Linked DNA regions of Homo sapiens. The protein of the gene in region 1 purifies or fractionates together with the protein of each later gene. This does not show direct contact. Each region holds a gene or a part of one and is shown in the gene's direction. Other genes may lie near its edges.

Region 1 (4,028 bases):
AGGCAGCAGAGACAAAGTAATGAAGAACACCAACTCTGGAGTCAAACAAACTGGGTTAGAGTCCCAGAGCCAGCATTCAACAGTTGTGTGATCTCGATCAAATCCTGTAACCTCTCTGGGCTTCAGTTTCTTCATCTATCAAAACAAGGATGACAGTAACAGTACCTAACCCATAGATTATCATGAGGATTTAATCAGTTACTCTTTGTAAAAGAGTTTATTACAATGCCTGGCAAATAGCAAAAAAGGAATTTTGGGGTTCCCTAGTTTCTACCATAAAAGAATTGTAGACATGGGTTATGTTGCTACTTAACAGTTTTGCTCTTGTAAATATTGCTCTGGCAATCAATACAGGATGGAGAGCAGGAGGAAGTAGAAAGAATGCTCGCAGAACTATGACTTAGGGTGTCTAGTCCTGGCTCTGCCATTAATCAGTTGTGTGACCCTTGCTAAGTTAACTGACCCCTCTGAACTCAGTTTTTTTTTTCTCTCTCTGTAAAAGGAAGGGCTTAAACTTCAGTAAATAACCGGTATGTTTTATTTAGTATTTTGCGAATCCCATTTCCAACTCTACGTTCAATCCAGTGACGGTATTTCTAGTTTATAAACTAGAAAAATAATCTTTGGCATCTGAGGGTCACAGCCGAGAGTATCTCCCTAGCAGGAGATTAGGGAGCCAGTGACAAAGTGGCACCAGGGGAACCGATGTATGCCAGGAATCCAGACAGAGGGTGACATTAGCACTTCTTTCTGCAGAACCTAAACCCTGCCCGACTCACCCGGAGGAGCTGTCACGGTGGTTTGCTGGAAACCCCCTTTCTGTTGGGAGGATTACTGGGTCACGGTTTCCCAAGGACATGGAAACCCTTGCTGAAGCGCTGGAACCGCTCGGCACGAGGCGTACGTCGGTGGGAGCTGTGTCAGCCCGCTTTCGGCCGTGTAGCTGCTCCCATCCAGACTCTAGAAGGGGTCCTCTTTGCGTCAGGCCCAATCACCCCCCTCCCCGAGCGACTGCACTGGGTGTCCCTGCGCCGCGCGTCCCCTCCCTCTCGCCCCTCCCTCCTGGCTGCCATAGAAACCAGCTTACAAGGTCCAGGCCGGCGTCCGGGTGCACTACAGGCCCCCCGTCCCTCCTTCCCCACGCCAGCCCCTCGCTCCGGATTGGTCCTTCAGGAAACGCTGTGGGGCGTCTCGGTCCCCGCTGCGGAGCCGGCCTAGGCCGGAGGGCGGGGTTTGCCCTGGGCCGCTGCCGGTCAGGTCGGCCGCCCCTGACAGCTCCGGGAGCCTCAAGCGCGACAGCGGCGCCCTCACCTCGGGACATCCACACACCGACCGCTCCTGCTCCAGAGGCAACAACCCAGCGCGCCTAGCCTGGCGCCGTGCAGCGAAGCCCAAGAGCTGGCCTCGCCACGAAGGTAAGCGAGGGGCTGGGGGACTCGCCGCCAGCACCCCCACCCCGCCACCCTTCCTCTGCTAGGCTGCAGACCTGGGTGGCTGAGGAGGAGGCGCCTCTCCTCCCCGCGACCCAAGGAAGAAAGGAAGCCCTGCCACGGGGTGTCTGCGAAGTGGGGTCAGAAGAAGGTTAGGCGCTTTCTGGGGCGTACCCCCACACCTGCCCAGGCCGATCCGCAAGCGAGAGGAGGGGGCATTAGAGCCAGGGCGAGAGCGTGCTCGCGCGTGTGTGCCCGTGTCATGTGTGGTGCCCGTGTCATGTGCGGCGCCCATGTCTATGTGCGCGCGTGTGTGCACCCATGTCTCTGTATGGTGTGGACACTCGTGTCTGCGTGCGCGTCCACACGTGAGCCGAGGAGCGCAGCTTAGCGCCTAGCGTTGCGCACAGCGGGTGCGCTGGACCAGAGCCCTAAGGCACCAGACCAAATCTGGAGCGTTTGTTACAAGGGCAGAAGACCGGCGTGATCTCCCCACGCGCGCCGGCCGGTGCTGCTGGTGGAGAGAACTGACATCTAACGCATGTGGCCCAGGAGAACAAAACCTTCCATTGCACCCCACGCCGCGACTCTCCCCAGCGAAAGGTGCTTCTTTTGGAAGACCGCACGAAGTAAGGAAGAGCCTCTTTTCCTCTTCCTGGATATCCCTCCAGGAATATTAGAAGCTCCAGGACTCCTTGATACGACCAGGAAAAGATCGCAACCGGGTCTTTAAAATATCGATTCCAGCCAGCTTCTGCGTGCTTGACACATCTTGGCAGATGGAGAAGTCAAGGCAATAGATAACATGGGCAGCAAAGATTCTGCTATAGCACTTCTTTCCTTTCTGTTTTTTCCTTCCCTCCTTCCCTCCTTTTCCCTCTTCTCCCTCCCTCCTTTCCTCCTCCTCCTCTCCCCTTCTCTTCTCCTCCTCCCTCCCTCCCTTTCTCCCTTTCTCCTCTCTTTTCCCCTTCCCTCCCCTGTTTTCGTCCTCCTGAGTACAGTAGACAAGAGGGCTCTCTGTCTACCCCCCCTCCCCCACCCCATTCCTCATCCCGTTTCAAAATAAGAGCGAATGAATCACATTCTAAGCTCTTACCCGTGCAGTTCTGACAAGTTTGGAAATTACACAAATCGCGTTTGCAATTGAGGCCGCGGGAATCCAAAAGGGAAACAAACGAAACCAGATGAAAAAAAGTGATTCCAAGTCAAGATTTCAAATGGAAATCTAAGGTGAATATTTGTTTATGGTAATAAGATTTTTTTTAATGTTTGAAAAGTATGTATCACACTAGCTTGCATCATCAGTATTCAATGTGATTCACAGAACCGCTTCAAAAGATGGTTTCTGTTAGTGTTGCAACAGCACTTCTAATTCTGGTTGTCATGGTTACTGAAGAAGTCGCCCTGCTCTATTGAGAGGCTGTCTAGTTAGAAGCAGGAACTGTTCTCCAGAGGACCTTCTCTTGTACCCTCGTTGTCACCATGGTAATAATTGAGTTTATGAAAATGTACTTACTTTTTCCCTTAAAGTACTAAAATCCCAAGGCATGTTGTTGTTTTTTTTATTTTATTTTTTCAGAGTTTGCAGTCCATGCAACACAGCTTTCCGCTCAGACAAATGAGAGTAAACACTGCCCTCCAGCAAGTTAAATGGCCCCAAATAGTCATGCTGCCCAGCTCTCTTCCCACAGCTCACTGCACGAACAGAGGACAGAGGAGGGTGTTAGATGTTCCACGAATCCTGGCCTGAGCCCAGATCGCCCTCGCCATTTAGCATTTACATTTGGAAGCCTAATTAGCTTTCTAATTAGGAGATGGGAGAATGTAGGGGGGGATTCCTGCGAGAGGCTAGTGGGGAAAAAGCTGAATCCAACTCCCCATGGACTGGTGTTTGGTGTGCCATTGAATTTGCCTAGTAAACCCTCATGGGTTTATTTTTAGCTGGACCACTGTTAAATGGTAAGCCTGGAAAAACCTTCAGAGAAGCCTCCTTCTGTGTTAGGAAAAAATGTGGATTGGATATTTGGTTTGAGGTGTGTGCTTTTTTTCTAACTACATTTAAAATAAAGACAGGTTTATATGAAATCTGAATTCCCCAGTAATAACTACAGATAGGTTATAGAGCCCTTTATATTCTTGGTTTAACCCTAGGTTTTTAGTTGAAAAGGTTTAATTTGGGGCAAGCAGTGGTACCATTTCAAATACTTTTATCAGCAAATGTTGGTTTCTTTAAAGAACCGTAATTCATTACACATCCACGATTTCTGAGCTTCAAATTCTAACATTGATAGCATGTGATTAGACAGCTTGAAGCCCTCAGACTTACAGTTTTGTTTTATTTTCTTTTCGTTTTTAGAGACTGGGTCTCGCCATGTTGCCCAGGCATGTCTCAAACTCCTGGGCTCAAGGGATCTTCCTGCCTCAGCCTCCTGAGGAGCTGGGACTACAGGTGCATGACAGACTTATCATACATTTTTAAAAAAACAAAAGCAAAGATTTTTGTCTTAGTAGGTTAATGTTTTTGTCACATATATAGTTTCATTTTGAGAAACTTAAAAATTAAAATATAACATTAAATCCAACTTCATTCTTTGAATC
Region 2 (3,500 bases), on another chromosome or scaffold:
CCCGTCTCTACTAAAAATACAAAAATTAGCTGGGCATGGTGTGGACAGCTGTAATCCCAGCTATTATTAGGGTGCCTGAGGCAGAAGAATCACTTGAACCTGGGAGGCCAAGGTTGCAATGAGCCGAGATTGCACCACTGCACTCCAGCCTGGGTGACAGAGAGAGACTCAGTCTCAAAAAAAAAAAAAGATAATATTCAGTGTTCACAACATTGAGGGAAAGGGGCACTCTCATTTGGTTTATGTGTGTGTGTGTAGTGTCTGTAGAAAGTAATTGGTATCTATCAAATGTTTACACATTACTGCAGTAGAGTATATAGCACAGTGGTTGAGAGTATGGGCTCACTTCCAAGGTTTAGACTTACTGCCTCTGCTATTGTGACTCTCAACAGAACACTCAGACTCTGAGCCTCAGCATCTGTATCTCATATTATCAGAGGGTTGTTTTGAGAATTAAATGAAACTGCATAAAAGATGTTTGGTTCAGGGCCTGGCATATAGTAATATCTGCTGCCATTCATTTTATTAATAATTACTAATAATAATGACAGGCCAGGTATAGTGGTTCATGCCTGTAATCCCAGCTCTTTGGGAGGCCGAGGTGGGTGGATCACCTGAGTTTGGGCATTCAAGACCAGCCTGGCCAACATGGTGAAATCCCGTCTCTACTAAAAATACAAAATTAGTCAGGCGTAGTGGTGTGCACCTGTAATCCCAGCTACTCGGGAGGCTGAGGCAGGAGAATTGCTTGAACCCAGGAGGTGGAGGTTGCAGTGAGCCGAGATCACGCCAGTGCACTCCAGCCTGGGTAACAGAGTGAGACTCCATCTCAATAATAATAATAATAATAATGACAATAGTGTTAATATGATTGTAAAGCTACTTATTTCTCTGAGATATAACTAATGCCTTCATTCTAGTTATATTTTCTTACTGAAAAACTATCGTATTTCCATTTTGCCTCTGAATAAATGATTCAATAAGCATTGATATATACCTCATGTTTATCTTGTCTAGAAAATGAATCTCATTCTAATTTATGGCAGGTTAGCAAAAAGAGTTTGGGCTCAGAAGGTTTCTGAAAGCATCTTTCACTTGTTTTCTTACATTTCTTCTCCCATAGTTTGGTCCTGGAATCCCTGTATCTTCTTTCTCATAGTACCTTAATCCTTGACTTTGCTTCCAATCAAAAAACAGTTGGCTTTACATCTTCTATTTACTCACTTAGAATAAAGAATAAGAATAGTAGACATATTAAGAAAAGTCGACTGTAGAACTTCTCTTGAAAGTCAGTATTCCCTGGTACAGTTGCCTTGGCCAAATGTTAAAAATGAATTTGAGGTTTATTATTTCCCATAATATAGGTTTTGTCTGACAACCCAAAGTCTTGGAAAGCAACCAGACATACCACTCATAAAGCCCAGTTTCATGTAGATTGTGATTGGTAGCTTGTTTCCTCATGCATGGACTCTTGAGAGTTTGTATTGTTATCCTGAATGGATTAAATGAATATAATGTCCTATTGATTATCTTAGGATTCTTTTTTTCTTTTCTGCGACAGGGTCTCATTGTCATCCAGGCTGGTGCTATCATAGCTTACTGCAGCCTTGACCTCCCAGGCTCAGATGATCCTCTGCCTCACCCTCCTGAGTGCCTGGGTGCACAGGTGTGCACCACTATACCCAGCTAATTTTCGTATTTTTTCTTTGTAGAGAAACGGTTTCACTATGTTGCCCAGGCTGGTCTTGAACTTCTGGGCTCAAGTGATTTGCCCACCTTGGCTTCCCAAAGTGCTAGGATTACAGACGTGAGCCACCACGCCCGGCCTTACTTAGGATTCTTAAACAGGCATTCCTGCTTTTGTTTTTTGGAAGGAATTTAGTGTATAATTAGATATTTATAGTCTTCTACTGACTTTCTAAGTTTCTTGCCAGGGTTGTGTATATGGTTTATAATGAAACATTACAGTAACTTCTGGAGAAATGGGACAGAACACGGTAAAACTGTCATGGAGAATTCCAGTTGTATCACCACTACATTTGATAAAGGACTAGCAATGGTTCTGAGGCTTGGAAGCTCTAGGTTCTTACTAGGGTTGACCTCAGTTTTGCCTCCCAGGCCTCACTTGTCAGCATTCTGCATCCACAAATCCTCGTGTTATGAGAGGATTTGACTTATAGACCTATCCCTCTCTATTCCTGAGCTAAAGCCTAGCATCATAGGAAGGAATTTTAAGGCCATCTTCTCCAGCAGCCTGACTATTCTAATAATTGCTTGAATGCGTAAAACTCAAATTGTCAAAGTTCTGAGAGCAGCATTCTTTTTTGCTTTTGACCTGCTTATAATTTTGGAGCTGGGAAGAAAAGCAAATATATTTCTTACAGTCCAATATCCACAAAGATTTCAATGGATTGGACTAAAGCTTACTGTTTATGGCAAAGAAGGCGATGGTCTCACCGTAGGACACATGAAAGCTTGTTTAGTCTACTGCAAAGGGAGGCAGGGGAAAGTGGAGCTGGTATAAAGGTGGGCCACTTGAAACATGGCATACATTCAATAATGGGGGAACTGAAGGGAGTTTAACCTAAAGATGAAAAGAGTTGGACAAGAGATATGAGTATTCTCTTCTAAAGTTAAAAAAAAAAAACAACTGTTCTAAAGAGGAAGAATTAAATGTTGCTGTGTAGCTCTCAGAGGAAGTACAAGATTTGCGGGGTAGAAATTACAGGTGACAGAGTTTAGGCCAGTTTCTAACAATTAGTAGAATTACCTGAAAAAAGACATTTTCCAGAAAGTGTTTTAAGCAGCAGATAGATGCCTGTCTGTCAAGAGTGTTGCAGAGGGAAATTTTGTATGTATCAAATGTGTATTACAGTAGATGATCTACAGAAATACTCAAATCCTTTTCCAGCACTACAATTCTTTGATTTGGTGACAGCCTTTCTTACTTAACAAGTACTTTTTTTGGCAAATGTTTATATTGAGATATGTTCTACACCTAAAATCGGCAAAAAGTTTTTTTGTGACCCAATTGTTTCCTTTTTGTTTCTGACACAACTCTGAGACACTCAGTATTGAAGTGTTTGGTTTAGTGCATTGTGGATACAACTGATTCAGAGTCAAGGAGAGCAATTATTGCCTCTGAATTTAGATAACATTTAGAGAATGAAACATAAATAGCTGTAATATAAATTAGCACTGTAAATATAGCCACAAGAAGAAACAGCATGGTCTAGTAATATCTCATAATTCTATACTGCTTTTCGGTTTTTAAAGAACTTTGATATATTACTGCATTATCACAACAACCCTATTCATTGTTATCCTCACTTTATAGACTAAGGAATTGAGGATCGACGAGGCAGTCACTTAGACGAAGGCAGAACCTTAATTTAAGCCTTGTTTTGTCTTTTTAAAAGTCCATGTTTTCTACAGTATACCATGATGCCTCTCTGGAGAATTTATTCTTTTGTTGTTGTATTATTAATTTTGAGTTTTAA

What was found. The genes of interacting proteins can lie anywhere in the genome.
Region 2: the proteins of NIM1K (region 1) and PDE6D purify together in Homo sapiens (affinity purification with mass spectrometry; one large-scale study listed by BioGRID and IntAct). This does not show direct contact.

The regions. Positions count from the first base shown.
Region 1 is NC_000005.10:43,190,997-43,195,024, forward strand, and holds the start of NIM1K (serine/threonine-protein kinase NIM1), read left to right. Parts: upstream 1-1,228; 5' UTR 1,229-1,415; intron 1,416-1,855; exon of another isoform or gene 1,856-2,660; intron 2,661-4,028.
Region 2 is NC_000002.12:231,771,283-231,774,782, reverse strand, and holds part of PDE6D (retinal rod rhodopsin-sensitive cGMP 3',5'-cyclic phosphodiesterase subunit delta), read left to right. Parts: intron 1-3,500. UniProt on the Homo sapiens protein: Promotes the release of prenylated target proteins from cellular membranes. Modulates the activity of prenylated or palmitoylated Ras family members by regulating their subcellular location.